Homo sapiens: one gene and its partners. The protein of the gene in region 1 purifies or fractionates together with the protein of each later gene. This does not show direct contact. Each region holds a gene or a part of one and is shown in the gene's direction. Other genes may lie near its edges.

Region 1 (3,500 bases):
TCGCCCAAGGTAACGCAGTGGGAGAGTTGGGCAGAGGGCTGCAGGAGGGGCTGGAATGGGGCCTGTTCCTCTTGCTGTTAACGCTCTGTGAGCAAACAGAGCCCTTGAAATGTCCCTTGCTCTTGCCTCCGGCATAATATGCAGTGGGCCACTGGGCCCTGGCAGCTCTTGAGTGTGTGCCCTGGGGAGCCATGGGGCCATTGGACTGTACTTCGTCCTGGTTCATGTGTCAGTAAGAAAGTAAACCAGGCTGGGTGCCATGGCTCACACCTGTAATCCCAGCACTTTGGGAGGCTGAGGCAGGTGGATCACTTGAGCCCAGGAGTTCAAGACCAGCCTGGGCAACATGGTGAAACCCCATGTCTACAAAAGATAGAAAAATTAGCAGGGCATATTGGCATGCACCTGTGGTCCCACCTACTCAAGAGGCTGAGGTGGGAGGATTGCTTGAGCCTGGGAGGTCAAAGCTGCAGTGAGCCGTGATCACACCACTGCACTTCAGTGTGGGTGGGGCTTGTGTTTGGTGGTGGCTTTCTGTCTGGGGAGTTTAGCGCCTAGTATTTTCTCTTACTGCCTCACTCCAGCACACTAGGCCCAAGCCCCGGGGGCTGGCCATTTCAGAGACGCTGCCTTCACGGCTGCCAGAAAAGCTCCCTCTGGCCCTGCTGGTAGAAACTGGGGATCTGGGGTTCTAGGGAAAATGAGAAAAGGGAGAGCCTGGCCTTGGAGGCCTGGTCACTTGAGCCTCTTCTTCCTCGTCACCCCATGTCTGTGAGGAATGGGGCTGTAGGCAGCCGTCCATTCATCCAGACCTCTGTGAGCCTCTGTGATAAGCCAGGCCCTGTGCTGGATATGGAGTTAGGAAGAGATGGGGCGAAATTGTCCTTACCCAGTAAGAGCACAGAGCCTTAGACATGCGACAGTGTGATAGCGTGGGATCAGGGCTCACTACAGGAAGGGGCTTGAGGAAGAACGCAGCCAGGTCCTCTACCCGCCGAGTGCTTCTGCCATGTGGTTGATGGGCACACTGTCATGCTGGCCCGTGCAGACCAGACAAGAACCACATGCGGAGGTTGGATGTGGTTGTTGTGGGTGGCACTTGGCTTTCCTTGTGGATTTTCTCATCTCCACACTCTGCTTCTTCCCTCTTTTGATGATTATAGCTCTCCTCTGCACCCTCCAGGCTGTGAACACCCGTTCCCCGTAGCAGCTGTGTGGTGGTGATGGCCCCTTAAAGTCTGGGCATTAGCAGGACCCTGAGGGTTGGGGTGCTTTGGTGGAATGGCTCCTTCAAAGGGCTGGGGGGCCTTGCCATGCCTCTGCCACTCCGAGGCCCATGAGGTTGTGTGAGTCATGTCGCAGAGTGGCCATGTGTTGCCCTGTGCCCTGTTGCTGCCCTCTGCAGGCCTAAGCAGCGAGAGCTGGTCCATCATGAAGAACATGGCCACGGAGCTGGGCATCATCCTCATCGGCTACTTCACCCTAGTGCCCGCCATCCAGGTAAGGCCCCAAGGCCTGCCACCTGGATGAGCATGGAAGCAACTGCTGTGCTCCCCAGCTGTGCAGCCATGGGCAGGGTGCTCCCCTCTTCAGCACAGGCATCCTTGCTTCTGAGGTGGGACCTCTTTGCCTGGCAAGCAGATCACTACAGCACCCAGATGGCCCCTGGCATGCCTGGCTCAGAAGTGCTCAGCAAACCCTGGCTGGGTTCCCAGATTGAGCACCTAGCCAGGCAGACTCTGCCCTTGACCCTGTCTTCCTACCCCTCCCTGCCTGCTTCCCTTTCAGCCAAGTGGCAGGAGGAGGCTGCAAGGGCATGGCAGGAGCTGGGGACTGGCTGTGCAGTTTGTCACACCTGTTTCCCATTTTTGAGGGAGAAGCACCGTGGGGTTCCTAGACCCTTCCTCCGGTCTCCTCCCTTGGCCCTGGCCTGTGCCGCAGTCGCCAGACGCATGGCCTTGCCTGGCCTGACCAGTGGGAGGGCCACCACCCATTGCCCAGAGTGACCCTGCTCTTGGCAAAGTGCCCTCACTCAGCTGTGGGCTGTGAGCAGAGGTGGAGGTGGCCCTGCACTGAGCTGGAACCCCAGACTGATGCCAGCCATTCCAGAAGGAGTTGCAGGAAGGGGAGGATGCCATCTTTTCTCGCCCGTCTTTCCCCCAGGGCTGGCAGGCCAGCTGAGGGATGGGGGTGAGCAGAGAACAGATGGGCTGTGGGCTGCTTCTCCTGGAAAAACAGTAGTATCTGCAGGATAGGGTACAGTCTTGGGACGTTAGAGCTGAGACAACCACTGTGCCACTATCTGCACTCCATGGTCTTACCCCAGATCGGAGTAGCACTGTGGTGATGTGCTAGAGGTCTCAACACCGACATCTCAGAAAATTTTGTCTGCTGACAGAGCTTGGGGAGCAGAGAGCTCACCCTTTTTCAGTTTTAGAGAATTAATCCCTCTCTCTCTCTCTTCATTGTTCCGGGGCAGTTGCTGGCTGGGAACCTTTCTGAGAGCCCCTGAATCAGGCCTGGGCTCTAGCTGGGTTGGTGATGCATGAGCAGGGCGGGGGCTCAGTGGGGAAGGACTTTTTGGGGAGCAGGCTGGTGGGGCTTAGAGGTTTCCGGGTTGGATCAGGCCTTCAGTCCCCTCTAGAGGGACCGGAAGATTCAGGGAAGGTACTTCCCCTTCCCTTTCAGCCCTTTCTGAAGAAAGTGTGAGGGTTTCTTCTGCCCCCTGGTGGAGACGGGGTGAGCTGCTGCTGGTATGTGAGCTGAGGACCAACCAGCATCTCTCATCTCTGCTGTGCCCTGCCTGCTGCTGCCCTGCCGGTTATGAGGTGGCTGCAGTCCGGGTACTGCTCCTCTTGGGCTGGGACAGTGAGGTCACGGCACCCCCCCATCCCCATGTGCTCTGATTCCAGGAGTTCTGTCTCTTTGCTGTCGTGGGGCTGGTGTCTGACTTCTTCCTTCAGATGCTGTTTTTCACCACTGTCCTGTCCATTGACATTCGCCGGATGGAGGTAGGAGTGGGCTGAGCCCTGCCCTGCCCGCCTCCTCAGCCCTGGCTGTACTGAGGGAGTCCTGGGTGAGAAGGGTGTAGACCTCGGGCAGGACAGCGGTCCTGTGCGAGCAGCCTCTGGATGGTGGACTCAGGCCCTGACCACTGTGCCCCCAACAGCTAGCAGACCTGAACAAGCGACTGCCCCCTGAGGCCTGCCTGCCCTCAGCCAAGCCAGTGGGACAGCCAACGCGCTACGAGCGGCAGCTGGCTGTGAGGCCGTCCACACCCCACACCATCACGTTGCAGCCGTCTTCCTTCCGAAACCTGCGGCTCCCCAAGAGGCTGCGTGTTGTCTACTTCCTGGCCCGCACCCGCCTGGCACAGCGCCTCATCATGGTACCTGCCACCCCTGCCCTGCCCTGCCCTCTTCTGGAGGGCCGGTGCTCCAGGCCCCTTGTGGTGCTGCACTTGGCCTTAGAGTGGCAAAGGGTATTCCTCAGGCCCTGGT
Region 2 (2,783 bases), on another chromosome or scaffold:
GCAGACCAGCTGTATTGGCATCATCTGGAGCTTCTCAGAAATACAGAATCTCAGGTCATACTCCTAGACCTTTTGAATGAGATCTGCATTTTAACAAGTTATGATGATCTGTTTGCTTTCTAATACTCGAAGAATAATGCCGTAGAGCAGGGGTCAGCAAACCTTTTCTTAAAAGGCCAGAAAGAAAATATTTTCAGTTTACTTTCCATACAGTTTTTGTCAGAACTATTCAACAATGCCATTGTAGTGCAAAAGCCCACATAGACAATACATAAACAAATTGATGTGGCTCTGTTCCAATAAAACTTTATTCACAAAACAGGCAACTAGCCAAGCCAAATTTTGGCAACTCCTGTTATAGACTATCCTAATCAGACCCCCTCAGTGTACTGAAGACAACAGGTGGTTAAATTCTTTGATGAGTGCCTTGCCATATGATGTCATTTGCTGATGTTCAAGAGAGATTAAGTGTATAGATTACACAGTAGATGATTCTGGAAATTATAGTAGCTTGACTTCTATCCTTACCTAAGTGGAGATATCTCCCAGCCTTGCACATGTGAGCTATATGTAAATGCTGCTCTATGATTTGATAGCATAATTATTATTTGTATTATGCTTTATAGGCCTACTGGAATAATTATTCACTTATTTTGACTTTAGTTAATAAAGCTGACAAACTTATGAAAAACTGCATTAATGTGACTTCGTTAGCTCAGAAAGAGTAGTTTAAAATGAGTTATTTAACTCTAAAGTGAGTCATTTAACTCTCAAGTAATTTTTTTTCATAGGAAAGCTAGTAGTTTTTAAAACATCCTTTGTTTTATGTAGGACTCCTTTCTGACACTTCCAAAACTCTGTATCTAGAAAGGGGAGGGCTGTTTGTTTGAAGGGTGGCAGTTTAAAGGTTGAGAAGGTAGTAGCTATTCTGAGAATGATGGACAGTGAACAAGCTTAAAGTATTTTGCTTTGTTTTATAAATTTCTTCTCTTCTAAGTTAGTTACTTGATAAATGGTGCTGAGGGGGCATGCCAGATGTCACCAAAGCAAAGCAGAAAAACTCGACTTTCAGCCAGTTAAGTGGTGATCAGGAAACTGATTCCTGGGACTTTGGCCAACAGGAATGATGAAAACATAGAAGTAGCTCCCGAAACTTGCATAAGTAACCAGTTAATTTGTTTTATATTAATACCACTTAATTTGCTTTATATTAATATCTATTCGGTCTATACTGGTTCGTCTGTATAGCTTTCCAAGAGACATAACACTATAGCTACCCCTGAGGCAGTTTTCTTTGGCTGTGTACAGCCTCATCCTTTGCCCACTGTACAGTGGACACTTCTCAGTTGCCATGGAATCAGAAGGTAAAGAAAGAATCACATTAATGACCAAAATATTTCTAATTATGGCTATCTTACCCCCTTAAGATTAAGCCCAATTTTTTGGTTTTGCCAAGAAAATTCAGTTTTCATATTCTATCCTATTTATTTTTAGATTATAAATTACTTAAGAGATGGCCTACTGACGTGGTTTAAAAGAACCACTCAAATTATATCCAGATTTGCTTGTTGGATGTTTATAAACTCTTAAAAAGTGTAAATCTTTAAGATCTTTACCTAAAAATTACTTCTCAGGAAAAATAACACGCAAAAACTTGATCTTGTATAACATTTTATTTAGCATTCTTACACACTACACAAAATAAATACTTGGATAACTCACGTCTAACAAACTAAACTATATATGTATTTTTTCCATAGGAAAGCACAAGGAGAAGACAGAAATATCAAGAGTCTCAAGAACCTTTGAATGAAGTAAACAGTTTCCCACAAAAAATCAGCTATACACAATTCCCAAACTCATTTTATGAGCCTCATCAAGATTTTACCAGTCCAGATATATTCAAGAAGTCAAGATCTCCATCTTGGTATAAATACACTTCCACAGTCAGCACGGGGATCACAGACTTAGAAAGTTCAACTGGACTTTGGCCTACAATTTCCCAGTTTACTCTTAGTGAAGAGACAAACGCAGATGTTTATTATTATCGCATCATCATACCTGTCCTTTTGATGTTAGTATTTCTTGCTTTATTTTTTCTCTGAAGATGATACCAAAATTCCTTTTGATAATTTTTTAAGTTTCCAGCTCTTCACCGAAATGTTGTATTCTTATTTCAGTGTTTCCTTCCAGACATTTTTAAGGTAATTGGCTTTAAAAAGAGAACATATTTTAACAAAGTTTGTGGACACTCTAAAAAATAAAATTGCTTTGTACTAGAAATAGTGTCATAGAATAGTGTCATAGTACAGTTTGGAAAACACTTCTGAAGTTTCAGATCACCTAGGAAATCTAGAAAAGGAGTTTAATGTTTTTGATCAGAGAATTTGAAAAATAGAAATACAGAGAATGAGTTTCAAAAGTTTTAGATAAACTGATATACTATATAGATCTATCTTCTAGAACATATTACTGAAAGCTAGGCACATTTTATGAGATGTGATTAACAATTTGCTTACCTTACTACAATATGGACATTCACCAAATATGATGTTAAAACTCTGTCTACTAGTTAGTAGTCCTCTCAGCCACTGCAAATTTTAAAAGATAAAGGAGAAGCGTCAGCATGATTACAAATTACAGATACTCCAAATGTCATTCCCTTTGTTTTTAAGTGCATTATGTTTTTATTCCAGAAGACTTAGCTTAATTTTGTTTTGCAAGAGTAAGGGATGTATTTCCTGAGCCAATAGCAGACTATTAAGATGTTGAGTAACAAGGGA
Region 3 (3,500 bases), on another chromosome or scaffold:
CCGCTTATTGGCCTCTGTCCTGTGGTATCTGTCACCAGCTGCCCTGGGAGGTCGTCGTTCTTGTCTTGCTCACGTTTGCATCTCTGCCAGCCTAGGGTGGTGCTTGCTTAACTGATGGGATGTTCCGCTCGCACCAGGAGCGACCCTAGAATGGTGGATTGGGGCGTTTTCCATCCTGATGTTGGAGTTGCTGCTGTGGATTCAAGTATGTTTTGCTTGGAGATGGGCTGGAGGCCCTGGCAGTGCTAAGTTCTGAGTTGCATTTTGATGCTTCTGTCGCTGAAGCCCAGGAGGCCTCTTCTCTGGTCCTTCTGGTTGAATGAAACACGGTGTTGCCCACTTAAGCGGGAAGTGCAGGTGAGGAGCTGCTTGGGAGGCTGGCCTCTGGCTCCCTGGCCCCTGAGGGAACCTGACTCTTACAGTCTTTCCAACCCCGCACTGGGGCCAGCACACAGTGTCCCAGGTCCTGAGCAATGTGCTAAGGCCCCTGTCTGAGGAGGTGATGATTTCCCAGGGCTGGGCAGAGACTCTGGGAGCTGGCCAGCCTGCTACAACCACTGAGCTCCCCAGGGCAGGGACCAAGCCCCATCCAGTGCCCCCTCTAGCAGGTTCCCCCTACCTGGTGCTTTCCTAGGCTGAGGACCCAGCGCTGGGCTCGCACCTAGAACAGAGCCCCTCCCACCTGCAGGGAATAGTGAGGCATCCCGCAGGAGCTTTGTTTCAATACATGTCCGTGCTCAGGGCTCTGGAGTGGTGTCATCATTAAGGACACGTGCCCGTCTTGTTTTCCCTCAGTGTGTATGTTGGGCTTGTGGACGGGGCAGGTACAGAGCATGCAGCTGCCCTAGCTTTTTCTTAGGGACCCATCTCCCTCCGGGCTTCCTCAGGCTTCCCAGGGGCTCGGCATCGAGCTAGCAGGAGCCGAGATAGTGGCCTCCAGGCCCTCGTGTCCACCCATCAAATGGGACCCATAGGGCCAGCTGCTGTCCCCCCAGAGCTGGAACCGTTGTGGGCAGGGGCAGCCCCTCCAGGCCCGAGCTCCTCTCTTGCTTGTGTTGCAGGGACATTCTGTCACGTTACCTCAAACCTTGCCCACCAACTGTGGTTTGTCCCAGAGTCAAGTTAAGGACGGAGGTTGTTGGCTTGCAGAAGAGAAGTGGGCTGAGGGGTTTATCAGGGAAACTTGGGGGCTTCTCCCAGAGCAAAAACAGGGTCCAGCCTAGGCTGGCTCAGAAGAGATTGACCCAGATGCTGCCTCAACAGGCCGGGCAGAGGCAAGCATAGGCTAGGGGCCAGGACTTCCCCCACCTGCGTGGGGACCTCGTCCGAGCTGTGGACAGTGTTTCACATGTGGTCATGTGTCTGACGCCGCCGTGCTGGTGCCTGGGGGACCTGCAATTCATGCCCAGCTCCCCATCGACCCCTGGCCTACCTGCCTCTTGGGACCTTTCAGGGCTCACCCCCAAAGGCACTGTGGGAGAGGACCCCCTGGCAGGTAGGGCCCGCCTGGCCAAAGTGGGTGGCAGCTGCTCTGGCCACCAGAGAGCCCACCCCCAACTCTAGCAGGGATTACCCAGGGCTGAGAGTGACAGGAGTTAGAGCTGCTGGCCCCAGGGACAAGGGCTAATCCCTTGCCTCCCCCCTCTTCCGGGCCGCCTCATTCTAGATCAGTGGAGCCATTTCCCTAGCAACAGAGCAGGAGATTCAGAATGGAAACATGACTTCCTGGGGTGGGCGGGGCTTCATGGCAGGCACCCTGGACAGAAGCCACAGCCCCTGCTCAGCTGTCATTGGTCCCCTAGGCAGGCTCAAGGGTTGACCTTCCTTTTCAAACAGGGTAAGAGAGCTGAGGGGCCTTCCGTGGGGATAGGAAGCCTGTCACCCAAAGTCAGTTGGGTGCAGAGCCTTGTCCGGCTCAGGGGTGGGGGGTCACACAAGCAGGTCTTCACCCATCAGGACACGCCCCCATGCACAGTTACAAAGAAGCCTGTACAACAGCTAGTAATTAGCACAGGGAAGTCCACGTGCTTAGTTGCCCGGGAGTGCTAGATGCGGGCACCGCAGCAGAGCAGGTCTCCACATGCCCCAGAGCGAGTCTCCTTCCCTGGCTGTTCATGTAGTCGGCGCCCGGTGGCGCTGTCCTAATGCCGAGCACTGAGCGCCTCCCTGCATTCTCCTGTAGGATCCTCACAGTGGCCTCTCCTGGGGCAGGGATGCTCAGCAGCCCCTTTTGACAGGTGAGGGATGAGACTGCGGCCCTAGAAGGCAGAGCTGCTCTCCAAGGCCATGCCTGTTGCCATACTGCCTGCCCAGCTGGCTGGCTCCGTTTCGTCGCTGGTCTGCAGGCCTTGCCCGCTGTCTCCATGCTGTTGACAAGATGCAGCGGTCCTTGTCCTCTGTGAGGGCTTGGGCCTGTGCTGGGGCAGGGGGTGTGGGGTGAGAAGGGTGTGGGCCGAGGCTGCTGGGGGAGATCCCAGCTGCCCCTGTGGGCCCTGGGCCTTCCCCGCAGGGCCTGGTCCCATCTCCCCTTCTCTCCCAAGCCTCCCCCCACTCCATGTAACTTGGCTTTTTTGCGTACATACTCTAGGCCAGTCACTGTTAAGTGCGTCCCACGAGCAGTCCCTTGTGAGGGAGGTGCTTTTGTCCCCAGCTGACAGGTGATCACACATCTCCCTTCATATGCCCCTGGTCAGGAGAAGGGGGTGGAGGGGAGGGCCGGGCAGCAGCAGTAGTGTCAGAAGCGGGAGCCCTGCTTCCCAGGGCCCAGCCTCCCCCTCAGGCCCCTGGCCAGCCCGATGGGTTAGCGACAGAGCTGGCTCTTTGCAGAGCACAGCACCTTTCTGTCTTGTGTCACTGCGTCCTTGCAGCATGCAGAAGCCGGGGGTGCTGTGGTTGCCCCCACTTCACAGATGTGGACACTGAGGCTGAGAGTACAGGAACTTCCTGGGGCTCCGTCCTCCTTTCTCTGAGCAGCGCCTCAGGATGAAAGGCCAGAGGGCCGTGCTCTCTGGTCCTGTGGACGGGGGGCCGTCTGTGCAGGGAGTGGCTGCCCACTCTGGCAGGGGCTCAAGCGGTGTCCTCGAGCTGGAGGTGGCCCCTGGGGGAGAGGTGGAGAGTCGGAGCAGCAAAGCCGGGGCCCCAGGGCTCCCACAGCTGCTGCCTGTCACCCACATTGTTCCTGGATTTCCGGAACTGGGGGGCTTTTTTGGGCAGTGGCGGTCTCTCTGCCCACCCCTCCCCAGTCCCCCAGTGTCCCACAACCAATGAGGTGGGTAGAGGGGGGCCCAGAGCATAGATCCCCCAGTGTCTGGGCTGGGATTATCCCGAGGCCCCACCTGTCACCACACGTGTAGCCAGCGAGGGCCACTGTCCTCTCCACCAGAGAGGGTTGGCCCCAGGCTGGGCAGCTGTCACTTGCTCCCTCCCCTCAGCCTCCTTGGCTCTCACATCCTGGGACTGTCTCTCTCTGGAGCACAGGAGGCCCCTTTCAATCTGGAGGC
Region 4 (3,500 bases), on another chromosome or scaffold:
TGGTAGCCTGTGTCTCCCATCTCATGATAGCCTGTGTGGGAGACTGTCATGGGCGTACGGAGATTTTCACTGATCATTCTGGATTGTATTAAAATCAAATGGAGCTTCCTACTTTTTTGCTTCTTTCTTATCAGATAAGAGGTGAAAATGTTTGCTATGGATCATGGCTGGAATTAGAGCTTGAGAAGATGCTGAAGGCCAAGGTGGACAAGTCGGATGAGGGATGGGCAGAGGAAGCAGGCTGCCTGTGTCAGAAGGCAGGAAAGCAGGAGCTGAAGAGGCCCCCAGCATTGACATTCCCCAGGGAATCATCTCAGACTGGGCAGTGCGTCCCCAGGAAACAGGGGAGCTTTTCAAAGCCCAGACTAAACGTGCTCTGTTCAGTACCGGTGGAGACTGCAGTTGAGGAAGGGCTCCCAGCACTCCATGTCTGGCCTGCATCGCTTCCCCATTTCCCCATCTCATTAATATACCCCAGAGGGCCATTTTCCTATTCAGGCCAACCTTCTGCTCAGCCCTGGGGAGGAGCTTGATTGCATTTTGGTTGCCTCTTCTCTCTCCTTTCTCTTGCCATCTGGGTTTTGCCTCAGCAGGGAACTTTTTTCCCTTCATTTTAAAGGCAGTGGCATGCCTCGTTAGCTGCTTCCTCCAATTTAAAGCAGTCGGGCTTTTTCCAATTATTAAAACTGGAGGAGGGGAAAACACTGAGCCCTTCATTCAGATCAAGGCAGCAGATCAAGGAGGGTTATTTTTCCCCAGAATAGTACCAAATCTCCCAGGGTTAGTTTGGTCTAGAGATTTTCTTATTTTATAAAAACTGATTTAAATGGGCTTTTTATATCCTAACACTAAAGCTCTTTTAGTTCTTTTTGCCTGCCCTAAGTAATTCACCACCCAGGTGACCTTTTTCTTCTACTTTGATGAAGCAGTGTACTCAGTGGTCATAAAAATCAAACTCAGACCAAGATTCAATTTTGCCTTTCAGAGAGATTGGCTGTGGAACTCCTGGCTCTCATCTGACTTTTCTGTCTCTATAACTAAGCATATCAAAGATTTTCTAGGAATTATTTTTCTAAATAAGATGAGTTCCAGAGATGAAGATTGTATCTAGATATCCAAGTATTACTGGATTAGAACTGGTCTATTTATTTTGGATTCTAACTTGAAAAGACTGGCAAGTCGCTGCAGTGCTAAAATAGAAGTGTAAGGGAGACATCACACACACAAGCTACCTGTGGGTCCCAAAGGAAGGGAAACGTTTGCTTGAAGTAAACAAGTACTTTTATCAGGAATCTCTAGTGGAAAGAGACCACCTGACAGTTTCCTGTGAACAAGCCAAAGTACCCTTCAGAGGACTGGTTCTAGATGGAGGTAGATTCCCAGGACTGACAAACACATGCCTTTTCTAACAGAGCAAGGGAAATGAACGGCAGCTGTTAGTTTCAGGAGTCATTTAGCTCCAAACAGCAGTGTACAGTGTTATTGGAAGGTTCTTTTAAATGTACCTCCTTCTCCCTCAAAACACAGCACACACATGCACGGACACAAACACGCAGGCCTGTTTGAAGTGTCTTTTCAAACCATTACTCTGACAGCTCACTTGGAAAGTATTAAAAGTATAAGGCTTTCATCAGTATTGTCTCGGTTTTCCTCATTGCATGGAATAGCCAAAAGCAAGATATCAAAGGCCTGTCCAGAAGTGGCTGGCTGATTGCTGGGGGATTTCCCAGGTCTGCCTTCCACGTGCCTCAGGACATCAGGCACATCCTGCACTGGAAAAGCACTGCCCAGGGGCCCAGGAGCCCCTCCCAGGAGTGCCTTTCCTTCCTGCAGGCTCTGCAGACCCTTGAGCAGCTAGAAGATAGAGTCCACTTTGTAGGGGATCCCAGAACAGAAAAATGACATTGAGGGACAATGAGGAAACCTGGATAATTAGGTATGCCTTCGGTTAATAATATTAATATATCAATTTGGGTTCATTAATTGTGGCAAAAGTGCTATACTAATGTAAGACGGTAAATAATAAGAAAACTGGGAGTTAGGTATACAGGAGCTCTCCATACTATCTTTGCAATAATTCTATAAATCTGAAACTGTTCTAAAGTAAAATGTTTATTTTTAAAAATTAAGCCTCTGAAACAAATGTGTTTAAGGTTTTAGTGCCAAAGAACCCTGCGTTCATGGGGAAGATGGTTGAAGTGGACATCTATGAATCAGGCAAACATTTTATGAAAGGGCAGCCAGTATCTGATGCCAAAGTGTACACGCCCTCCATCAGCAAACCGCTAGCAAAGGGAGAAGTCTCGGGTTTGACAAAGGTAAGTAAAAGATGCTCTCCTCTCTACCCTGCTAGTAAAACAGCAGCTGTGGAAGCACAGTGATTCCAGGCCATGTTTCTGTTATCATTTATAGTTCCCTTTTTATGTATGCATGAGGCTTTAATCCTTTCTGACAGATTGAAATCTGAATTAGAAAGATGTGTTTTTGCTGATGCCGATAGCTTTGCTTCTCTGGCTGTAAAGAGAATAAGCTCTTTCTGCTTCCAGTTTAGAAGCAGGGGGTAAAAGCCATTATTTGCAGGTGAAAATGTTGACACCAAAAGATGATCTGATCCAGTATGTTTCTATGTCAGTAGATCCTGAGTGGAAGGGGATGAAGAAAGGGGTGTTTTCTTGCTTTACAAAGCTGTTTATACTGTAGTAAAAACCTACAGCTGAACAGGCACTAAACCATATCATATATGCAGTTATGGTGCCTTTCAGAAGGGTGTTAGCTGGATATCTACTTTAGTCATGTGGAGTGAAAATTAAACATTTTTTTCTTTCTATAAAAAAGTAACCTGACCCCTATTTTATACCTTGGTAAATATGGCCGTTTGCCAAGCTCTCTCACATTTCATTGAGCTACAGTTGTAAAAGCTGATGGAGTGTGAAATGAAAATGTGTATCACATTTCTAAGCATCATTTGATGTCCTTTCTCCAACACAATTGTTAAGCGCTTAAAAAAAAAAAGCATATAACAGTGATTTAACATATGGAAAAAAATAACTGATATTTATCTGGCCATGTAATTCCGAAATTGTTTTAATCTGTGCATAATCTTGTTCCTCAAAATAAATTGCAAGGACATGTTCGTTAAAATAAAGGGAATACCGCTTCACTCTGGCAATAGTACCGCTTCACTCTGGCAATAGCAACAAAGACAATACTATTGTCTGTGTTCTCACTGACTGTGGCACTGGATTCTTGTGTCCGACAGCAGTGATAATTCACATGTGCTTCACAAGTGCCCATGAAGGATCTGCGTGCATGGCCGTCTAACCCGTACTGGAATGGTATAGACCAGCTTTTGTTAAAATCCTACCAAATGCATCAGCCTGCATGATCAGGAGATAACTCTAAAACTTGATAAACATAACCATTCATTTTTGCTGTTTATTAAAAAAAAAAAAATTGTACTTGGGGGATAGTATGGGTGGCCAGGAAGGAGCAGTGTAACC
Region 5 (3,500 bases), on another chromosome or scaffold:
GCCCAAGTCACAAATTGGTGAGTGCACAAGCCCTGGAGCTTTGTGGAAAGGAAGTCCTGAACCTCAAAACTCCCTTTGGGGAGAAGGCAAAGACTCCTACTCCTTTTCTGATTGCTCACCATATTCTCATTCCTCCTGTTCCCCCAAAAAAGAATACAAGAAAAAGTAGGAAAAAACCATGTCCTTACTGGAAATGAATGTGAGCTTCTGGGCTAGGGTAGGGATAGGTGCAGGAACTCTTCATGTTAACCCCTTCCTTAGGTCCAGCTGCTGCTTGCGTGTCTTTGCATGGCACCCCCACACCAACAAGTTTGCAGTGGCCCTGCTAGATGACTCAGTCCGTGTGTATAATGCCAGCAGGTGTGTGTGGGGACACCAGGTGGGCTCTGACTTGTCAATATCACCTTCCCTTGCCAGCCTTGGTTCCGGGGAGTCCTGTAGTTCTTGAACCTGATTCATGGGGCTCCTTCCAGAACTGGGGTCAGGGAAGCTCCATAACTGGATGCGTGCTTCTTCTAGACCTAACCTTTATCCCCTCCTGTCCTATGGTGCCCCTGGCCCCTGGATGGATCATCCTTCTTCTCTGTGGCTTTCCCTCCTTAACTGCACTCTGGTCCCTGGAGCCTTAGTGTTCCTGCCTTGACTCAGTTTCCTGCCCCTTCACCCTAGCACCATAGTCCCCTCCCTGAAGCACCGGCTGCAGCGAAATGTGGCGTCTCTGGCCTGGAAGCCCCTTAGTGCCTCTGTCTTGGCTGTGGCCTGCCAGAGCTGCATTCTTATCTGGACCCTGGACCCTACCTCCTTGTCTACCCGGTAAGTCCTAGTAGCCTGCCTTACCTTGGCCTGAGAGTTGTGCAATGCTAGGCATGGTGGGTGGTGAGGACGTCTGAAAGGAGAAGTTCTTTGTCCTCACAGCACTTCCCAGGGCTATGGGAAAAGCAGAAGTAAGATCAAGGTGGGTTGCTGAGAATACTCTAATCTGGAGAAAGAGAACTAGGGGCTTTTTGGATTGTGGGGACAATGTGTCTGTGGGTTACGGGGTGGAAAGACTCTTTCAGAGGACTATACACTTCCTTTACACTTAAAGGAAGTGTAAAGAAAATTAGTACTAATAAGATCAGAAACTAATAAAATTAGAAAAAGAATACCTGTGAAAACTAACTAAAAATAAAACCAGAAACTGGTTCTTTAAATTATGACTAAGCTGGGTGCGGTGGCTCATGCCTGTAATTCCAACACTTTGGGATGTGGAGGCGGTTGGATCACCTGAGGTCAGGAGTTCGAGACCAGCCTGGCCAACATAGCAAAACCTTGTCTCTACTAAAAATATGAAAATTAGCTGGGCATGGTGGTACACACCTGTAGTCCCAGCTACTCGGGAAGCTGAGGCAGGAGAATCGCTTGAATCTGGGAGGCGGAGGTTGCAGTGAGCCAAGATCATGCCACTGTACTCCAGCCTGGGCAACAGAGCGAGACTCTGTCTCAAAAAAAAAAAAAAATTATGAATAAAGGCTGGGAACAGTGGCTCACACCTGTAATCCCAGCATTTTGGGAGGCCAAGGCGTGAGGATCACCTGAGGTCAGGAGTTTGAGACCAGCCTGGCCAACATGGTAAAACCCGTCTCTGCTAAAAATACAAAAATTAGGCCAGGCGCAGTGGCTCATGCCTGTAATCTCAGCACTTTGGGAGACCAAGGTGGGTGGATTTCTTGAGGCCAGGAGTTCGAAACCAGCCTGGCCAACATGGCGAAACCCCATCTCTACTAAAAATACAAAAAAATTAGCTGGACGTGGTGGTGCGTGCCTGTGATCCCAGCTACTTGGGAGGCTGAGACACAAGAATCACTTGAACCCGGGAAGCGGAGGTTGCAGTGAGTTGACATCATGCCACTACAGCTGTACTCTGGTCTGGGCAACAGAGTGAGACCCTGTCTCAAAAAAAAAAAAAAAAAAAAGGCCAGGCGCGGTGGCTCACGCCTGTAATCCCAGCACTTTGGGAGGCTGAGGCGGGTGGATCATGAGGTCAGGAGATAGAGACCATCCTGGCTAACACGGTGAAACCCCATCTTTACTAAAAATACAAAAAATCAGCTGGGCGTGGTGGTGCTCGCCTGTAGTCTCAGCTACTTGGCAGGCTGAGGCAGGAGAGTCACTTGAACCTGGGAGGCGGAGGTTGCAGTGAACTGAGATCACGCCACTGTACTCCAGCCTGGGCAACAAAGCAAGACTCTGTCTCAAAAAAAAAAAATATATATATATATACACACACACACACATATATGTTTTATATATATACACATATATATACACGTATATATATATATACGTGTATGTATACGTGTATATACGTATATATATGAATAAAGAAGAAAACCTCTTGGTTAGCCTAATTAAGGAGAAAAAGAAAACCAAAGTATACTATTTTCAGAAGTGGAAAGATATAGATACGGGAGAAAATAGAAGAATTATAAAAGAATATTGTGGACTTGTTTAGGCCAACAGATTTGAAAATCTGAAGGAAATGTTTGATTTCTTTTTTTTTTTTGAGAAGGAGTTTCACTCCTGTTGCCCAGGCTGGAGTGCAGTGGCACGATCTCGACTCACTGCAACCTCAGCCTCCCGGGTTCAAGTGATTCTTCTGCCTCAGCCTCCCAAGTAGCTGGGACTACAGGCACGCACTAGCTAATTTTTGTATTTTTAGTAGAGATAGGGTTTCACCATATTGGCCAGGCTGGTCTTGAACTCCTGACCTTGTGATCCGCCCGCCTTGGCTTCCCAAAGTGCTGGGATTATAGAAGTGAGCCACCGTGCCCTGTGGAAATGTTTGATTTTCTAGCAAAATATAAGTTACCAAAGTGGATTGTAGAAGAAAATAATGAGATTTTTTTTTTTTGAGATGGAGTTCCACTTTTGTTGCCCAGGCTGGATGGAGTGCAGTGGTGCAATCTCGGCTCACTGCAACCTCTGCCTCCCGGGTTCAAGTGATTCTCCTCTTGACTTCGTGATCCGCCCGCCTCAGCATCCCAGAGTGCTGGGATTACAGGCGTGAGCCACCATGCCCGGCCTGTCCTCCCTTTTTTTTGTTGCAGGATCTTCCTGATTTATTTTTATAAAGCTAATGTAACCCTGATACCTAAACCTTGACAATAGGTACTATAAGAAAAAAACACGTGATCACAGATTTTTTTTGGGGGGGGATGGAATCTCACTCTGTCGCCCAGGCTGGAGTGCAGTGGCGCCATCTCAGCTCACTGCAACAACCTCTGCCTCCTGGGTTCAAGCGATTCTCCTGCCTCAGCCTCCCAAGTAGCTGGGACTACAGGTGCGTGCCACCACACCGGCTAATTTTTTATTTTTAGTAGAGACAGGGGTTTCACCATATTGGCCAGGCTGGTCTCAAACTCTTGACCTCAGGTGATCCGCCTGCCTCGGCCTCCCGAAGTGCTGAGATTACAGGCATGAGCCGCTGCAACTGGCCTGTTTTTTGGTTTTTTTAGAGA
Region 6 (3,500 bases), on another chromosome or scaffold:
GTGCTGCATGCCTGTAATCCCAGCTACTCGGGAGGCTGAGGCAGGAGAATTGCTTGAACCCAGGAGGCCCAGGTTTCAGTGAGCCAAGATTGGGCCATTGCACTCCAGCCTGGGTGACAAAAGCAAAATTCCATCTCAAAAAAAAAAGCAGGTATGACCAGTAGAGGGTATACAATTCAGATAATTCTTTATAAATCTTCTTTTCTCCCCCCTTTCACAAAAAGAAAACACAGGACAATGGGTCAGAGAATGAGATAGAAGTTTAAAAATTTTGTTTTTTTTTTTTAAAAAACAAAGAGAAGGGAAAGATAAGAAAGTGGAAGAATTGTGGAATCAGACATAAAGAATATACCAATGTGCCCCTATTAAGGTAAAATATTGAACGAAGGTTTTTTTTTTTCTAAAGATGGAAAAAGTGTAGGTAAGGAAATATGACATAGAGCAAAGGGACATAACCAAGAGAAAACACTTGCTTTACCATTTTATTTAAAATTGCCTTCTTGCTTTCTTCATAGCTGTGCCACTGCATATGTTCTACTGGCTGAGGAAGAAGCAACAACTATTGTAGATGCTGAAAGGTTATTTAAACAGGCACTCAAGGCAGGAGAAACAATTTATAGGCAGTCACAGCAGTGCCAGCACCAAAGTCCTCAGCATGAAGCTCAACTGAGTAAGCAAGTTTGAACTGGTTATTACTGTCTTTTAGCATCTGTAATTTGCTTGTGTCTTAACACAAACAACAATAATAAAAAACTTAATACTTACAGGTTAGTTAATTTTCACTGGAAATAACTAATCTATTCACAATACCTACAAGCCAGCAAGACAGAAATGTGTATTAGCCAGAGAATGCTTGTGGAAGGGAATAGATCTGCTCAGGTTATTGAGAGAAGATGTGCTGCTCTGAGACTTAACAGTAATTTATTTCATGTGAGAATTGGGCTGGTCATTGTAAAAACATAACTCAAAAACTTTCAGCATTCAGGAGAGCCTTCTAGTGATGATAAGCAGCTGTTATCTTTATCCTCACCCTTACTCTAAGCAACAGTAGAGGTACATTATTTGGTTGGTTCTTCAGACTGTGTATCTGCATATAGTGCTAGGGAGTGGCCCCTTTCACACCATCTGATTCTTAGCCCAAAATCCAACCTCATACTTGGCATTGATTCTTTCTTTGGTTGATTTTTCTCCATGATGTGCTTGAGATCAGATGAGCCATAGCAACAGAAGTCCTTTCTGTTCTTAGATATGCTCTACCAGTTATGATTGAGATTTTTTTTTACCAAAGATGTTAGAATCAGCAATGATGCTGCTTCCTGCTATTTTTATGGCCAGAGGGTTTTAGTTTCATGATTTTGGCAAATAGTGGGTAATAAATTGAAATATGTTTATATAATGCATTATCTACTGGCAGCTAAGTTCTAAATCTTTTTTTATGTGTAAATTAAAATTTGGATAATGTTTTTCTCCCTAAGCTAAATACAGATATATATGGTATGTTTCATTAATGCACAGTTTTTATAACACAAATCTGTGGGAATATATAATTTTGTAGCCTGGAACTAATGAAACTACATCTTTAAAAATGTCATGCCATTTGTCTTTGAATAATCTCAAATACGGTTATGAGCTAGTTACAGAAATATTTGTTAGCTCTTTCTAGAAGTAGTTTTATAGTTTGTCAACTACTCACTGTTAAGAAAAGTTTACATTAGCCATGGAAATTTTGTTTTGGACATTTTTTGTTTTTCATTTAAAACAATAGAGAGTATCAGAATAGTAGATCATTTATGCACAAACTTAAATACTAGGTTAATGTTATATCTTACTATAATGTATGTATTTCTTTTTTGCTAATGGTAAAATAAACTTGTCAATCATACACGAATTATATATACTGTACTTAAGTTACTATTAGAGGCAAAAATAATTAAATGTGTATTTTAAGTTTTAATACAGAAAACTTGAAACATGCGCAAAAATAGAGAACACTCCTGTTCAATATTTATCATCCAAATGTAGACATCATTAATATTCTTCCATTCTGACACAATTTAATTTTAATTGACTCTTCCAAGGGAAGCAAATAAAATTAATGGATATGTTAATGAAATAGCAGCCCACAATACAAAAGTGATAGTTGTATCATTTTTTTGTTTTTCTAAATAGGGAGAGATACCAATGTACTGGTATATATTAAAAGAAGATTGGCAATGTGTGCAAGAAAATTAGGAAGAATAAGAGAAGCAGTAAAAATAATGAGAGATGTAAGTAAATTGATGATGGGACTATTACATTTATTCCTCCAGAAACTAAAAATTTAGTTAAGTTGCCAGTTATTTTAATGCAGAATCATTGTATTTTAATTGGTAGTTTTTAGAACAAGGTATTTATTTAATATACGTACCTTTCTTAAGGGTTAGGTCTTCTTCACAGCTATGGTAAGAAACAAGAATTTCTACTTAATGAATCTGGCTCAGCTCTATTGAGTTCCTTTGTTATGATTTTAATCTTTCTTTTCCTTTTAATATACAGTTGATGAAAGAATTTCCTCCTCTTACCATGTTGAACATCCATGAAAATCTCTTAGAATCACTTTTAGAATTACAGGCCTATCCAGATGTTCAGGCAGTCCTAGCAAAATATGATGGTGAGTCATATTCCCTTAGTTGATAGCATGGTTATTCTTTTCCAATTATGTAATTATAAATGTGGTTATATTCTAGTATTTAATTTTCTCTTTCTGTTCTTACCAGTCAGTATTTAGCACTCAGAGGTTGCTATTTAGTATCTTCTTTATCAGGACTTTCATTAGCAAAAGTCTGCAAGGAAGAACTTTTCTTCTGTCAAGATTTACTTGTTTGTTTATTGAGTGCTTGTTTCTAATATGAGTGAGTCATTCAGAATATGACAGTGAACAAGACAACATGGGAGGCTGGGCATGGTGGCTCACACCTGTAATCCCAGCATTTTGTTTTGGAGACTGAGGTGGGAGGATCACTTGAGCCCAGGAGTTGGAGACCAGCATGGGCAACATGGCAAGACCCTGTCTCTACAAAAAAATTTTTTAAAAAAATTAGCTGGGTTTGGTGGTGTGTACCTGTAGTCCCAGCTACTTGGGAGGCTAAGGTGGGAGGATCACTTGAACCTGGGAGGTTCAGGCTGTAGTGAGCTGTGACTGCACCACTGTAGTCCAGCCTAGGCGACAGAGGGAGACCCTGTCTCAAAAAAAAAAAAAAAAAAGACGGGGAGCCCTCATAGGATTTACAGTTTATTTACAGTTTAGTGGAGCATACAGACAAATGAGCAGCAGTTACATTGAAGACAGCATGTTTGGGAGATAATTGGAGAAGTATGGGTGCTGTGCACATAGTAGGGGTACCTTATTTGTTTTGGAGTGTCAAGCAAGCCTAACAGAGAAGTTGCTTAGCAGTATATACTATAAGAGCAATTCAGAATAACATTTTTACAATGCTTTTTAGTTACAAAGTTCAATGATA
Region 7 (3,500 bases), on another chromosome or scaffold:
CCCTGGCTAATTTTAATTTTTGTATTTTTAGTAGAGATGGGGTTTCATCATGTTGGCCAGGCTGATCTCAAACTCCTGACCTCAAGTGATCCGCCCACCTCAGCCTCCCAAACTGCTGGAATTACAGGTGTGAGCCACCACTCCCGGCCGATTTCCGCCATTACTTTTGCACCAACCTAATAGCTTAGGAGAGGGAAGAGGCCATCTATAAGTTTTAAGTCAGGCAGTGATGTGACCCAATGTGTGTTTCTTAAAGATTATAGAGGCCATGCAGGAAAGATGGTTTATATATGGTCTGTGGTCGCTTTTGCACTACAATAGCAGAGCTGTTATATTTGCAACAGAGACCATATGGCCCATAAACCTGCAATAGTTCCTATCCGGCCATTCACTAGAAAAGGCGGGCAAGAGAGGAGGATGGGGACCAGGTGCCTGCAGGGAAGATGGAGCAGAACAGTGTTTCATCCCTGGTTTTCAGATAATTTCACAAGGTTGAAAGACATCTTAATGAAAGTGAAAGTACAAGGCACTTACCAGGAGATATTCACACCAGATGCCATGGCTCACACCTGTAATCCCAGCACTTGGGGAGGCCAAGGCAGGAGGATCACTTTCAGCCAGGAGTTTAAGACCAGCCCGGGCAACAAAGTCAGACCTCATCTTTACAAAAAAATATAATAAAAAGTTAGCTAGGCATGGTAGTACATGCCTGTAGTCCCAGCTTCTAAGGAGGCTGAGGTGAGAAGATTGTTTGAGCCCAGGAATTCAAGGCTGCAGCAGGCTATGATTGTGCCACTGCACTCCAGCCTGGGTGACAAAGGGAGACTCTCTCTCTCTCCCTCTCTCTCTCTCTATCTATATGTATACACAATATATTTGCTGTCAAAGGATTATCATCAAGAGTCTATAGAAAATATACACATCCTTGGACTAGGCACGGTGGCTCACGCCTGTAATCCCAGCACTTTGGGAAGCTGAGGCGGGCAGATCACCTGAGGTCAGGAGTTCAAGACCAGCCTGGCCAACATGGCAAACCCCGTCTCTACTAAAAATACAAAAATTAGCTGGTGTGATGGCATGCACCTGTAATCCCAGCTACTTGGGAGGCTGAGGCAGGAGAATCACTTGAACCTGGGGTGGGGGGCGGAGGTTGCAGTGAGCCAAGATCATGCCACTTACACTCCAGCCTGGGCAACTGAGCAAAACTCCGTCTCAAAAAAAAAAAAAAAAAAAAAAGAAAGAAAGAAAGAAAAGAAAAAAGAAAATATACACATCCTTTATATGTAACTGGAAAAGCACAGGCAACCCAGAAAAAAAATGGGTACATGACATGAGCCAGCATTTGGAGAAGAGGAAATACATAAGCATGTGAAGACAGGTACAGATCAGGGGAACACAAATCAAGACCATCGTAAGGTACAATTCTATACCCATGTGATTAGAAAATAATGTAAAAGTCTATGTGAGCCAAGTGCTGGAGAAGATGAGGACTGACAGGATTTCTCACACATTGCAGCCACTTTGAACACCGTGTTGGCAGTAGTTCTGAAAATTGAAACTCACGTGCCCTAAGTCCATCAGTTACCTCCTAGGGTAGTACCCAAGAGAAACGCTTGCAGGTGTTGACCAGGGACATTGACAAGAATGCTCACGATCATCCACAAAAGCAGAAACCTGGCAACAGCAGGAGAGCAGGCAAATAAACAGTTCCCGACCCACCAGCAGGAGAGTGGGTGAATAAACTACATTATAGCCAAGACAGTGAAATATTTTACAGCGATATGATATTAAATTAAAAAAAAACACCAAGTCTCCAACACTACCTATAATATTATACCCTTTAAATAAAATTTTAGGAATACATAGAGACGGAAAATAAAACTATATAAAAAAGGAAACAGGGGAGTAAGGAGCTTGGAATTCAGGTGGTAGTCACCTTGAGGGGGAGGCAAGGGGATGGGGAAGCACAGGTTAGACACAGGTGTGGTCAAGGCCTCGCTCCTATACGGGTGTGCATTCATAGCACTGGTGCTAATTACAGTATTAAAAAGTAATTCGTTAGACATAAAGTAGGGCTATGTATTGACCAATGAAGAGAATGTCTCATGTCCTAAGGATTATGGGTAATTTAATTCAGTCCACCAGGAATCCTCAAAATATGAAAAAAGAGGTACAGTAGCAAGTCCATAGTTACCGGCTGTGGCACCCTACTCCCTTCTTGGAACCTGAAACGTCCCCATTCGACTTCCTTCACTTATAGCTCAAGTCGCTGCTGGAATTGACTGCTGGAATTGATTGCTCTGCTGTGACCCTACTCTGTCTGCCCTGGGTACCCGGCCCCTCCCACGACACCACCACTGGGAGAGGAGGGGAGGGGGCCACGGATGACCATTGTACCTCAGAGGCTTGAGCTGGATGGAATTGTTTCTGTCCAGATCTGTCCCTGGCCTGACCATGGGTGGCTGGAAAAGACTATAAATGGATGGGATTCAGCTTCCTCACACTCAGCACTCCTTGAGGTCGGCAGCATCACTGGCAGTGGGGCTCAAAGTTTATATTTTCCAAGACAGAGAAGTTGAGTTGTGGCCCACCTTGAAAGCCCTAACAGCATCACAGAAGGAGAGGGTTTGGAGAGGACAGTGGCTCAAAGATTTCGGGGGAGAGGAGGGCTGCAGGATGGGGAGGAAAGGAGGGAAATTCAAAGGGGAGGAAGATGAAAGTGAAGTCGGGAGAGATGAAGCTTTGATCTGCATATTACTTACAGTATACAGGCTTCCATCTGTATAATACTTACAATAATATAGTAAGTATTATAATACTTACAATAATATAATAAGCATTATAATACTTACAATAATATAGTTGTTATTATTGTAATATAGTTGTTACTATATTATTGTAAGTATTATAATACTTACAATGATATAATATCATTATAGTAGTATTATAATACTTACTATATTATTTTATTTTATTTATTTATTTTTTTGAGATGGAGTCTCACTCTATTGCCCAGGCTGGAGTGCAGTGGCGTGATCTCGGCTCACTGCAAGCTCCACCTCTCGGGTTCACGCCATCCTCCTGCCTCAGCCTCCTGAGTAGCTGCGACTACAGGCGCCCGCCACCACACCCGGCTAGTTTTTTTTTTGTACTTTTGGTACAGACGGGGTTTCACCATGTTAGCCAGGATGGTCTCGATCTCCTGACCTCGTTATCTCCTGCCTCGGCCTCCCAAAGTGCTGGGATTACAGGCGTGAGCCACCGTGCCCGGCCAATACTTATTATATTATTAATATTTATAAATAATATACATATTTATATTATTTATTTTAATATTTTTCTTTTCTTTTTTTTTTTTTTTTTTTGAGGCAGGGTCTCACACTATTACCTAGGTTGGAGTATGGTGATATGATCTTGACCTCCCAGGCTCAAGTGATCCTCCCACCTCAGCTTCCCTAGTAGCTAGGACTACAAGCACGCACCACCATGCCCAGATATAT

What was found.
Region 2: the proteins of SCAP (region 1) and VRK2 purify together in Homo sapiens (affinity purification with mass spectrometry; one large-scale study listed by BioGRID and IntAct). This does not show direct contact.
Region 3: the proteins of SCAP (region 1) and TMEM201 purify together in Homo sapiens (affinity purification with mass spectrometry; one large-scale study listed by BioGRID and IntAct). This does not show direct contact.
Region 4: the proteins of SCAP (region 1) and CDKAL1 purify together in Homo sapiens (affinity purification with mass spectrometry; one large-scale study listed by BioGRID and IntAct). This does not show direct contact.
Region 5: the proteins of SCAP (region 1) and AAAS purify together in Homo sapiens (affinity purification with mass spectrometry; one large-scale study listed by BioGRID and IntAct). This does not show direct contact.
Region 6: the proteins of SCAP (region 1) and ST7L purify together in Homo sapiens (affinity purification with mass spectrometry; one large-scale study listed by BioGRID and IntAct). This does not show direct contact.
Region 7: the proteins of SCAP (region 1) and EVA1C purify together in Homo sapiens (co-immunoprecipitation; one large-scale study listed by IntAct). This does not show direct contact.

What each region holds. Positions count from the first base shown.
Region 1 is NC_000003.12:47,420,442-47,423,941, reverse strand, and holds part of SCAP (sterol regulatory element-binding protein cleavage-activating protein), read left to right. Parts: coding exon 1-9; intron 10-1,405; coding exon 1,406-1,500; intron 1,501-2,912; coding exon 2,913-3,011; intron 3,012-3,169; coding exon 3,170-3,388; intron 3,389-3,500. UniProt on the Homo sapiens protein: Escort protein required for cholesterol as well as lipid homeostasis.
Region 2 is NC_000002.12:58,157,589-58,160,371, forward strand, and holds the end of VRK2 (serine/threonine-protein kinase VRK2), read left to right. Parts: intron 1-1,654; exon of another isoform or gene 1,655-1,760; coding exon 1,761-2,105; 3' UTR 2,106-2,176; coding exon of another isoform or gene 2,177-2,212; 3' UTR 2,213-2,283; downstream 2,284-2,783. Other genes in the region: E3 ubiquitin-protein ligase FANCL, read right to left, coding at 2,460-2,591. UniProt on the Homo sapiens protein: Serine/threonine kinase that regulates several signal transduction pathways.
Region 3 is NC_000001.11:9,591,911-9,595,410, forward strand, and holds part of TMEM201 (transmembrane protein 201), read left to right. Parts: intron 1-3,500. UniProt on the Homo sapiens protein: Critical regulator of angiogenesis and endothelial cell (EC) migration. Promotes the migration of endothelial cells, which is essential for angiogenesis.
Region 4 is NC_000006.12:21,198,957-21,202,456, forward strand, and holds part of CDKAL1 (threonylcarbamoyladenosine tRNA methylthiotransferase), read left to right. Parts: intron 1-134; coding exon of another isoform or gene 135-533; exon of another isoform or gene 534-1,633; intron 1,634-2,153; coding exon 2,154-2,318; intron 2,319-3,500. UniProt on the Homo sapiens protein: Catalyzes the methylthiolation of N6-threonylcarbamoyladenosine (t(6)A), leading to the formation of 2-methylthio-N6-threonylcarbamoyladenosine (ms(2)t(6)A) at position 37 in tRNAs that read codons beginning with adenine.
Region 5 is NC_000012.12:53,311,611-53,315,110, reverse strand, and holds part of AAAS (aladin), read left to right. Parts: coding exon 1-17; intron 18-261; coding exon 262-360; intron 361-669; coding exon 670-813; intron 814-3,500. UniProt on the Homo sapiens protein: Plays a role in the normal development of the peripheral and central nervous system.
Region 6 is NC_000001.11:112,581,142-112,584,641, reverse strand, and holds part of ST7L (suppressor of tumorigenicity 7 protein-like), read left to right. Parts: intron 1-515; coding exon 516-670; intron 671-2,169; coding exon 2,170-2,267; intron 2,268-2,535; coding exon 2,536-2,650; intron 2,651-3,500.
Region 7 is NC_000021.9:32,510,206-32,513,705, forward strand, and holds part of EVA1C (protein eva-1 homolog C isoform 1 precursor), read left to right. Parts: intron 1-3,500. UniProt on the Homo sapiens protein: Binds heparin.